2 separate regions of the Homo sapiens genome follow, and region 2 is linked to region 1. Evidence: fine-mapped expression QTL. Tissue or cell type: whole blood. Region 1 holds a variant in brackets; the other region holds the start of a gene. All regions are shown on one strand. Distances are from middle to middle.

Region 1 (6,003 bases):
TGTCCGGTTTCTGAGCTAAACATTCCAGAGGGCTTCTTGGAAACTGGTGCCCCCAGGGAGTGTGTCTGTGCTCGCAAGTTTCTGTACCTTCAGAAAGCCGGAGGGTCCCAGTTGGAGCCAGTCCGAGATGGAGTGGGCTCAAGAAGGAAAGAACGTGGGGATTTAATTGGACTCAGCGAACCCTTCCCGGACCAGCCGGCGTAAACTCTCGGAGGCTGTCGCCTGTGCCCGGCTCTCCTCCCGGCCTGGGGCGCTTGGCAGAAACGCGGTCACGGAAAAGGGGTGAGGGTGGCAATCCCGGGTCTGCCCTCCCGTACACCTCCCTGCTAACCCACCCTGTCTGAGAGGCCACGGGGACCAGGCTACTGGGCATAGTGTGAGGACAAGAAGGGATGGAGGGCTCGGGACGGCGGGGACACGCGGGGGCAGTGTTGGGGGAGCTGGAGTAAGAGTGTTCCGAGAGGGGAACTCGGGCGCGGGGGTGCGGGAAGGAGCCTGGGGTTGGAGTGTCCGGGGTGGGGGTAGGCCGGAGGAGGGGTGGTGTCTCGGAGTGGCGGGGCTGGGAACTCCCCGGGCGAGGCTGAGGCAGCATGGGGGGCCGGTGGTGGTGGCGGGGATTGGGGCCCCCGAGGCATCTCTGACCACAAAGGGCCGGGGAGCGCGGCCCGGCGGTCTCAGCGAGCCGTATTGATCGAAGGGCGGGCGCAGCGAACGCGCCGAGAGCGGCTCCATCCATTAGGGCCGCTGTTCGCCTCCAATTAGAAAAAAAATCATTACTCAGCAGCCAGCAGCGGCCTGCGCGCCGCCTGGGACCGCCAGCGAACAAGCGAGCCAGCGAGGGAATGGCGGGCCTCCCCCACCCCCGCGCTCCCACCCTCAGCCCCCGGCGCCCCGCCTCCCCCGGCCCTAATGACAACTATTAGAACTGCCTCCCCGCACCCACCGCCCGGCGAGCACAAAAGCGCGAGATTCATTTGGTAATCGGGGTAATTACAGCGGGGCGCGGGGGCGCACGCGGCGATGGCGGGCGCGCCGGCGGAATGCTAAGGGGCCGGGCGCGCCGCCCGCTCCCACCGCCCCGCCCTCCCCGCCCGGCCCCTAGCCCGAGCGGCGCCCGGGGCCGCGTCTCTCCTCGCCTAAACCCTCCCCGCTGCCGCCGCTGTAAGCGGGCTGCCCCGGGGCTCCCGAGGACTGGAGGAGAAGCCCCCCGCCCCCCGCCACGGGTCCTCTCGTCCTAGCCCTTGGCAGCGCGGCCAGCGGCGCTCCGGACAAGATTTGCCACGTCCGGGAGCCGGAGAACCCCTCGGAGGTCCGGCCGCATAATAAATACCGCGTGCAATGTATTCACTCTGCGGCCCCCGGTTAATTTATACGCCCGCTCCAAGCCGTGCGCCCGCCTCGGCGCGCGCCCCGGCCTGTCGTTCCTATTTACAGGCGCGAGGCGCAGTCCCTCGAGAGGGCTTTTTTCTTTTTCTTTCTTTTTTTTCTTTTCTTCTTCTTTTTTTTTTTTTTTGAGAGATTTAGGATGGATGCAACGTGTCATTAAACCTGAAAGGAACTGTTATTTATCAGTAATGATGTTTTCCACAGGCCTTTTTCCTCACCTGCGCGGGCACAGGTACCACCTGGGTGGTGGATGCGGGGCGGGGGTGCCAGGAGGCCTGGGTGGGGGTAAACTGTGTGCGGGCCTAGCCGGAGGCGGCCGGGGCACCGCTGGAGGCCACCTCTCCAGACTCCGGGAACCCGAGGGCCTCTCCTTCACTTGGAGGCACGGTGCTGCACCCCCGTTGGGGGGTTCCCCTTGCAGAGCTGCCTAGAACAGCAATGTGTTAGGAGACGCCTCCGAAGAGCCTCCTCCTCCTCAGCTGGCAAGAAACGCAGACTCTCGGCAGTGCCATTCTTGCAGCAGAAAGGCCCTGTGTGACTCCAGCACTCGGAGCAGCCGCCTTATCTGGGGTGATTTCCCATCTGCCTCCCTGGGCCCAGGATTTCCTTCCTGCACAGAACTTATCTTGTCGGGAAGCAGAGCTGTGCGCTAGAGGCAGGCCCAGCAAATGGAATGCTCGTTCGGTCTTGTGTTCTTAATGACCCATAACAGAGTCCTCAGAGGTGAAAAACAAAACCCTCCACCCCCTTAACCATTTCTGTGCCCATCCTGGTCTGGGAGATTTCTTAATCCTGCTGCGCCGTCACACGGACTCCTCTCTGGATTTTATCCTGCGGCCGCCGGGTCCAACTCAGCCGCACCGGGACTGGGGTGGGGAGGCGGAGCCCTGCAAGGGCTTGAAGTAGGGACTGCAAACCCCTGAAAGAGTGGGCAAAATTCTGGGTAGATGCATTTTTCCGAGGGGAGAGTTCTTAAAGGGATCTGAGACAGTCCCAAAGGTTAAGAACCACCTGCCATCCCTTTGACCTTGTTGAAGTTTGATCTCGGAGCCTAGCTTCATTATCAGAAAGAACGAGAATACCCCAAAGCAGTCGTTGTGATTAAAATAGTGAGATAATGCTTTAATATTTGTAAACTGTACAGGCTTCTTCAAAGATAAATTATTAATGATGCCAAAGATGGCTGTGTGGTTGTGCGTGTGTGCACGTGTGAATGCACGTATTTGTGAGGTGATAGTGCAGGGGAAGTGTCGGGGGAGTCACTGGGATTATATTATTTGTCCTGAGACCTCCCCCACCCTCCGCCCCTGACCATTTCTCTCTTCCTCAGGACCAAGTGGGGTTGATCTGGAATATTGCCCCTCGGTTTTGAGAATCACCAAGGCTGGGTGGGAGAGATGGGCAGCAAGGTCTTCCTGCTGAAGCCCGTCTGGTCCTCAGGAGACCCATGGCCCCCTTGGGCACACAGTAGCCATCTGCACGGAGTAGGTGGCTACCACATCTTTGTGGAATAATGGAATCAATGACTGGATAGCTCAGTGGTCTTGGGCCAGGCCCACATCCCTTCTGTACTTGCAAGTGGAAAAGGACTCTGGACCCTTTCCAACTGCAATGTGTCTGTCTCTGGTGGTGGAGGCCCTTCGGTATCTTTTTTGATTCCATGTCTACCTTCTAGGAGCTCAAAGACTGAAATAACCAGAATCCAGGGTGTCAAGCATCCCCATAGAGATGGGGACTGATGTGGTATAGTTCATTCCCCTCATCCACACACTAAGAAGCTACAACAGAGAAAAGCTTGACTGAGGTCATGAGACCAGGGTTCAGAGTTCCCCTCACTGATACCCCCTTACCCCCACACAAAAGGACAGTGGCAGCCATGCAAGGGCACTGCCCAGACCTCCCTTCAGCGGAAAAGTTTCTGGAAGAAGTGTCATGGTTTGCTAGCCTCTGGCTGTGGCACCTTCGGGATCTGCTGCAGCATTCTTGCTGAGGCCACCCTCCCCAGGCTGTTCCCGCCCGAT[G/A]ACAGAGCATAGCAGGGGGACTAGAGCTGGGTCATTACTGCCTGACACAGGAAGTTTCTGATGGGCAGTCTGTGCTCTGGGGCTCCCCATCGGCCTGGCTGAGGCTTTCTCAGAGCTGCGCTGCCGGCTGAGGCTCTCCCTACCCACCCCTCCTTCCTTCCCCTCTCCTTCTGCAGGGGTCAGAGCTGCCTCCCGGTCTGAAGTCCCCCCCCCCCCTTTATCCTTCTTAAAAATCTCCCCCAATACATCTCTCACACTTACTCTCTCTTGGTGTCCTCTACCTGGAGGACTCAAATTGCCACAGGGACTAACACGTAGACTCCCATGCCCTCCGGTATTTTAGGCGGGACCCTTGTGTGTTCAGGAGCATGTAAAGAGCCAAGGGTGGAGCTAGGAGCCCTCAGCTACTCCTTTACCCCATTCCAGAAGGTTCCAGGCTCTACACACTCCCCTGTACCCATCTAGGGCTAGGTGGCCAGCTGTCACACTCTGGCAGTAATGCTGCTCATGACTTGTATTTATTCTTCAAGTTGCTCCTGGGTATATTAGGGCCCATCTCTGCCCAGGTCCCTTGCCAGCAAAAAGGCTGGTTCTTACTCACCAGCTTGCCCTGTTGCTCTGGGAAGTCAGTCCCACGGCCAGACCGCCCTCTTTTCACACGGCCACTCTGAGCACCAATGTGAGAGGCAAATGCCAGCCCTGCAAATCTGTACATGGAATCAGAGGCTCTCCAGACTCACGTCCAAAGGTGCATGGGCGGGGCGAGCCAGGAGACGGGGGAGCCCTGCTCAGTCACAGACACAGATGACATGAAATCAGATGGAGGATAAAAAGCATCACTGGAAAACAAAGGAACTGCTAGAGTCCGTGCCTGCTCGAGAAAAAGCAGTCATCAGCCCAAAGATGGATGAAGTGGAGGGCTGTTATTTTTAAGGTGGGGGCAGAGGTCATTAGCTTGAAGAATGTGTCATATTTGGCATCGGGAGGGTGGTTATGTGAGGCTGGAAAGCAAAGCCTGGTCCGCTCGCTCTCTGGCCAGGGAGATACTATTCCCTGGGGAAAAAGGACAGGCCCTCAACTAGCAGAGAGTGGCATGGAGGAATGTGTCCCCCAACCTTTCTAGAAGACAATAAATCTGTGAATTCTTCTCATTGGCAGGGCTGAAGGTTCATGGGACTGAGGCCAGCACCCAGTGGTGGCCTGGGCTGTAGAACTTCAGAAACAGCTAGTGCTACCCCTGTAGGCTAATTGTTTTTTCCAGAACCAAACTTTACTTGGCAGCACTAGGCTATAGCTCCATGGGCAGGGGTTTTGGGAACGGTGCCTTTGGTCATAGGGTATCAGGGTTATCTACAAACCCTCCTGTTTCTGGGAAACCAGCCTGAAGTCCTCATGCCCTCTGCAGCCAGAGGCCACTGGGCGCTGTGGTTCTGCCAGCTTTGGGGTGAGCAGAGGCAGAGACAATGGGGGAGAAACTCTATGAGGACAATGCCTGCCCAGCCTGAAACATCGCTAACAGATGGAAGGATGCAAACAGCAGCATGCCAAGCCTTCAGAGAGCTGGGAGCTCTGCCTGTGATTCAGGGAAGCTCTGATTCAGAGCTCTGAGCGCGTTGTCGCCCGGTGTCCTCAGGATGAAAGGCCTGCTTGGGGGGCTCCTCTAGTCCATCCCTCCCGGCTCCACCACCTCAAACTCTGCCTTCCAGCAGCAATTTCTTCCAGTTCTCCGGGCTTTGCGAGGCTTTTGCTGGGGCTGTACCCTCAAGCCTAAAACCCTCTGACTCCTAAAACTATCTGACTCCTACAACTATCTGACTCCTACTCATCCTTTCGCTTTCAGCTTAAGCTCCAGGAAGTATGGGCAACCCCCACAGTAAACAAAGCCAAACGTTTTCTTTATCTGGAGCCTTTACTATGCTAATGTACATTGTGAATCTTCCGGAGGTTGGTGGGTGGGGGGCAGTGGAGAGGCCGCCAATCTTTCCAGAAGTATTTGGCCCCAAGAGGCCTCCTACCCCCACGTCTATTAACCCTCTCCCAGAACGAGGTGAGGAGGAGGAGCTTGGGAAATGCTCCTCCAAGAGAAGCAGAGCGGAGGCAAAACCCCTCTTGTGGGGAGGTACAGTCCCTTCTGCCCTCCTGTACCCTGCGGATAAACTTACCCCCTGGAAGGAGAAACCAGAATAGCAGCCCAATCTCTTCTTAATGCAGCTGCAGGGTCAGATCCAAGTTTGGGGGCCTAAAAGTTACGTGAATTTTGGGGCCTTCTTGAAGAAAAACAGTGCAGAGGTACAAATGATAACTGCTAGGACCCTACCAGGGCCTTGGAAGGGGACTGTGCGAGTCAAGGCCCTGAACTTTAAGCTTTATTAGCCTCGAGGTAAAATCCACACCTGTGCAGAGGCTTAATTCTGGACATAGGTGTAGCTAAGACACATCCCTCTCCACATCACGTTTAGGTCAACTGGACGGTCTTGGATGGCCCTCCTTTGACTCTGGTATATCTCTGCCAGGCTCCGGCTGGCCTGCCTGCCTCTAGGCCCACAGCCAGCCTGTGGTTTGTTCTACTGGGCCAGCCATGCAGGTGAGTGGTCTC
Region 2 (5,430 bases), 190 kb before region 1:
GGAACACAGAGCGTCAGCCTCTCCCATAGTGCCCACGCTTCAAAATGCATAACACCCAGAGGAAGGTGAGACATCCTCATGCCCATTTTAGAGGGTTCAGAGAGGGCAAGGGCCGCAGAAGGTCACACAGACAACAATCGGTTGTGCGAAAAGGGTCTTTAACTCCATTTCTTGGGCTTCCTCACGGGTTTAGACCTCCAGGATTACCCAGGTCTTGGTCTCTCGGGATTCCGGGAAGGGTCTTTCCTGGCGCCTCGAGTGGAGGTCAAGGCCAGCCAGGCGACTGGAAGGCCTCTGGTTGCCAGTCTGCAGTCAAGCATCCTTTTTGGCAGCGGCTCAGTAAGTGGGGTGGTCTGGTTAGGGACTGCAGGAAATTGTCTGAGCTAGATTAAATATTTTACAAAACCTTCGGGGGGCCTACGGTTGACTTGAAGCTGGCAATGTTAAACCAAACAAAAGTTAACGAGTTCTCTCCTGACTTTTTAGGTACAGTTCAGAGAAAACGGTGGGTAGCGCTCTTTAGAGGAAGCAAGTTTAATAGCGTTTCCTCTCATTTTTCTCCGTATCATTCTCTCTGCTGCTTGTAGAGCCTCATAGCCTCTCTGGGGCTGGGGTGGCAGAAAGGCCTCTTCGGGGTCCCTCTTTGAAAGGGCTGCAGCCGACTTGAGCTCCTGCGGCCACTGAATTCCATGCTTCTGACTCCTGCTTGGAGTAAAGTGCAGCCTCACCGGAAGTGCATGGCCCTAGGAACTGCACAGGACACAGTGCAGACACCTGAGGCCTCTTCTGGCCTTCCCCTAGGGCAACCCACGGGGTGGGAGGAGAAAGGCCTACACTTCAGGACTCACGACCTAGTAACAGCCTTTTCCTCGTTTTCTCTCCCTCTTTTGAGTCTTTAGCTGCAAATCCTGCACTGCTTTCTGAGGGTTGTCCTCAGTGTTTCCCTCCCTGAATCGCACACCCTTTTGTCCCTGCCTCCTGGCTTGAGTGTGACTGCTCCCTTGCACGATGCCCACCCCATTCCCATATTCAAGTTGCAGTGTAGAAGCTCTGCAGGCCAGAACTGAACTGCGGCCCTGCGAGAGAAGGAGGCAGCTTGACCTTTGCAGGAAGGGAAGAGAAGGCAGATTCACAGCTCGCAGCGCTGCAGGGAGACACAGAGATGCAGGCGTTGTCACAGCACCAGCAGCTCTAAGGGGAGCCTGTAAGAGGAAACCAGCTCCAGGAGGCGAGGGAGCTTCTGTGCGGAGTGTGTGCCCCAGCGAGATGCACAGGCCGCGCAGTGAGAGAGGAACTGCCTGGGGGAGCTGTGGCTGCTGCCAGCTCAGCGCAGTGTGGGGGTGGGATGGGGGCTCAGAGAGGCTGGGGGGCTAAGATTAGGGCTGCCGTGGAGGATGGGGCCTCTGGAGAAGACAATAACTAAAGGAAGCTGCTCTGAAGAGGCCAGACCACCTGCGTATGGCTCATCAGATGGGGGGCAAGGTCCCAGCAGCTTAGGAAAGTATGCCCTAGGAAAGATAGATTTGCCAAAGGACACAGAGACTGGAGCTTGGTTGGGTTTTTACACATTAATTTTTGGGGGTGGCATCTTTGAGACAGGACCTTCCTAGGGAAAAATAGAGAGCCCTATACTTCTAAATCCCAGGGGATCCCAGGCGCAATGAGCTACTCAGCGGGCAGCCCAGGCCCACCTAGGGTTTGTGTCCGGGCAAGGGGCTCCAGAGCGTGCAGCCCACATAGGTCCCTAACCAGGCTTTGGGGGAGGGGGTGGGTAGTGAAGGGGTGTGCCCGCTGTATATAGAGGCAGCTGCCATTTGAGGGTGGAGGTGGGGAAGGTGATGCCTCAGCTTCGGCGCTGGAAACCATTGTTTGAGTCTGCACCCAGCGCTTCTCCAGCAGGGCTAATTCTCCACGTGTCCAATTTTCGTGTCTGAAAAAAAACAGCAGCACAGAAACAAAACCATATGACAGGACTGGGCTGCAAACCTTGAAGAATCGAGAGGGTGGCGGAGGTTGCGGCTGGGAAGGGGGAGGGTAAATGTGTGTGTGTGTGTGTGTGTGTGTGTGTGTGTGCCTGTGTGTGTGTGTTGGGGGCGGTGGGGTGGCGCACAACTCAAAGTTTCGGCTATTTCCTACCCGATCTCACCTCCCGGCGTGCTCATCTGATGCAGTTCCAACTCCCTCAAACGATTCCGCAGCCCCAGCGCTTGCGGGAGTGTGGAATTACAGTCTGGAAGAAGCGAGGCGCTGCCGCGAGAGGCGACGCACCGAACCCGGGAGTGCGGAAGCGCAGGCCGGCAGCAGCGCGACCCCTGGGCAGCCTCTGGGCCGCGGTCAGCCCCTGCGGCTCCGTCCTCCTGCCGGTCCCGAGCGGAGAGATGGGTCAACGCAAACCCTCAGCAGGATGGGGGGAGGGGAAAGAAGGGAGACAAGGCTTTTCCCAGAAAGCGGAGGGGAACTCGCTTCCCATCTCCGAGGCGCGATGATGCCCCCATCCCCCGCGCCCCGACCTCCCTGAGATTCGTTTCCTTAAAAAATAGCCAAAGGCCAAACATTTAGCTACGGGTTGAGTCTTCTTCCCACCCCCACCCGGTGCCCTCTCTGAGTTCTCTAAACCCACGAGGCGCTTTAGGCCTGGCGTCCCCCGCCCTCCCCCGCTTCCGCCTGTGCACGAGCCAGTGGCGGTCACTTCTGCGACTCTTTGGAGGCCGACGGCCAGGAGCTTTGTTCTCCTGGGGCTTCCTGCCCCTCCCCCCTCCAAGTCATCCCGGTTTCCACACTTTATCTGCGCCCCCCCTTTGACGTCCGCGCACACAAACAACCCGGGCCTATAATCTCATTAGCATAGGTCTCGGTCTGGGTGACCGCGAGGCTCCCTGCGCGCCCGCGCGCAGCGCTCTGTTTCGCTGCAAGCCGGAGTTTCCACCATGCATGCACCCGGGGCGGGGGGCGGGGACGTTCCGGGTGACAGTGTTGGCTTTGGGGCAGGCCGGGAAGAGGAGGCCGCCCGGGGCAGCGGGAGCCGCGGGAGGAAGGCCCCTCCCAGCGCCCAGTTGCCTTGGTCCCCGGAGCAGATGGCAACTTTGTCTCCTGGTGTGCGCGCAGCGACTTTCAACACATTGAAAAAGCAGTGCTCAGGCTGTCGGGGAAGCCTCGCTGACATTCAGAACCGATTAAAGACCCGAGACGGTGCCAGGCGCAGTGGAGAGTTATGAATTAATCATGGGGGTTACCGATATCTGAGGCTCCCCAGGGCAGTCCTTCTATTATAAGCAGCCCCCACTGCCCACTCCTGACCCGCTCCCCCCTCCCCCGCCGCCGCAAAGGGGTAGTCGCGGCGTCTTTTGCACTGCCCCAATTAACAGCCACGCGGTAATGTGAAAAGTGTTTGCCCTGCCACCCTCAGTGCGGTCTCAGGCCGGGGCGCTGGGCCTGCCAGACGCTCGCGGAGCAGCTCAGTCTTTGGGATAGGCCCGGAATGAGCTCTGTGCTCTGACCCGGGTATGGGGTGGAGTGATGCTCGTTCTCTGCCTCTGTGGCCCAGGTTCAGCTCCCTTCACCACCGTAGAAGGAGGCCCTAGATAGTGGGCGACGTCGGGGACCACCTACAACCTGGGTGCTTGTTTTGGGTCCCCAGAGCAGCTACAGGCTCGTGGTTTCGCGTTGTGGCTCTGGCGATGTTCCAGATATGGAAAAACGAGGTTCGTGTGTGCCGTGGAACTCCGCAAAGTCCCTGGGCCTCCTAGGAGGAACCCCCATGTCTGGAGTCACCCTAAATGACCCGCACCCCTGGGAATCGAGGCACACATCTCGACCACCGAACTTGCCGTTCTGCGTATTGTTAAATCACGCACACCGTTCTAATCTCCCCTATTTATTTCCCAGGCCTGCCTGGCCACAGATTTCTGCAAGACGGAGCAGGCTTCGGGTTCCTCCTGCTTCCAGAGGGGCCATAAAAAACAGATGGTCTCATTAGGAACAATTTATGCATATATATTTCGAAGAGTTCAGCAGAGCCGGCGTAGGTTTGCAGCCCCTGCGTCAGGCAAGAGCAAAATATCACCACTTGCAAATGTTTCCAGTTTGCAAAATAATGGCCTATCCAAAGTAGCTAAGCAACGAATTACTCAAACACTAGAAGGTTAGATGCCAATATTATCACATTCGTCCTGTTCCTTAAACCGTCCTCCTCCGCGGTCTTTGGATTTCGGATGGAGGCTCCTGGGCCTCACACCCCTACGCCCGCGGCTTCCTTTCATGACTATTTCCAATCTCCAAGTCAAATCACTTATTAATTATAGAGGCAACTCGAGCAAACCCAATTACCCGTAGGCAGCCCTTCCCAGATGGGAAGTCTGTCTCGCACGGCTCCCACGGTGGCCCAGTTTCTTCTGGGGAGGTTTCTTTTGCGTCCGATTTCTTTTTGTCAGTGGTCCGCCAGCGGCCCTGAATGTTTCCTCTGCCTGATTCTTCTTCCTAGAGGCAACTCCATTTTCTTACCCTGTTCCCTTTCCTTCTTCCAAGGAGACATCCCCGCCCCTTAGGAGCCGCTGCCTTCGGGCTAAATTTACCGCCGCGCCAAGTTTAAGCCTTAGGCGTTGCAGATCTGGCGTAGGAATGGCGGAAGCTGTAGACAGAGCCCTATTCATTTGCAAAGGCGGAAGGCAGAGTGATTCGCTCAGTTGGCTGCCCCTCGTCTCGTCTGTCCTCCCTTCAGACGTAGCCGGTGGCTTAGGTTCACCTCGGTTTGTGGGATGTGTCCTAGGACTCCGCGAGGCTTACCCCTGGTGGGAAAAAGCCTACTTCACTTTTAATGTCCTCACAGTTCTGGCCATATGGTAATAATAATGCTAACCACCAGGACTTTGTGCTAAGCATTTGACATATAACTATATCTTCTTTAAACCTCGTAGCCACACTTATACGAATATCCCTCCCATTTTGTAGATAAAGAAACTGAGGTTAAGAAACTGGCCTCAAATCACACAGTTAGTTGAAAATGAAGCCCTTAATCCAAAGCCTGAGTTTGCATTCACAGCGCCAAAGACACCTTCCAGAAGAGTACAAACCATAGGGGGCGGTTGGGGGCCTGTTTGCTTGCAGCAAAGGACGCCTGGGAGCGCAAAGGCCTCGGAGGTTGCAGTCAGGAGGTCTAGGCGTCGAGCTGCGAATAGCAAAGCACGCCGGCGGGACTCCAGGGAAACAGGCACACCTGGGATTTGGGGCGCTAGGGGAGCTGTGCTGGCTAGGGGCAGAGTTTTGGGGTGAAGCGCGGCTGCTAGAGTCTTGCAGCGCGTGGAGCTGGGTACTGCCACCCTTTCGCTACCGCAAAAGTCGCTTCCTCGGCTGTGGTGCCCTTGGGACGCGCTGTGGGGTGCGGTGGGCTCGCCTTGGCGATCTTGAGGGTGTGCAGGGTGCGGGGAGCCTCGG

Evidence for each region. PIP is the estimated chance that this variant, and not a neighbour inherited with it, causes the effect.
Region 2: it holds the start of LINC03053, and the variant in region 1 is fine-mapped to the expression of LINC03053 in whole blood (TOPMed, PIP above 0.99).

Annotation. Positions count from the first base shown.
Region 1 is chrX:39,816,338-39,822,340 of GRCh38, reverse strand. No RefSeq gene overlaps it. Among named protein-coding and RNA genes, the nearest start is that of MIR1587, 18 kb to the left of the region's middle. RefSeq lists enhancers at 3,827-4,744, 4,745-5,660. The variant G/A (reference allele first, on the strand shown) is at 3,408.
Region 2 is chrX:40,006,518-40,011,947 of GRCh38, reverse strand. LINC03053 (long intergenic non-protein coding RNA 3053) reads right to left here and starts at 2,698. Exons shown (of 2, transcript XR_007068218.1): 1 at 2,147-2,698; 2 at 1-1,930. RefSeq lists enhancers at 2,931-3,558, 4,778-5,430.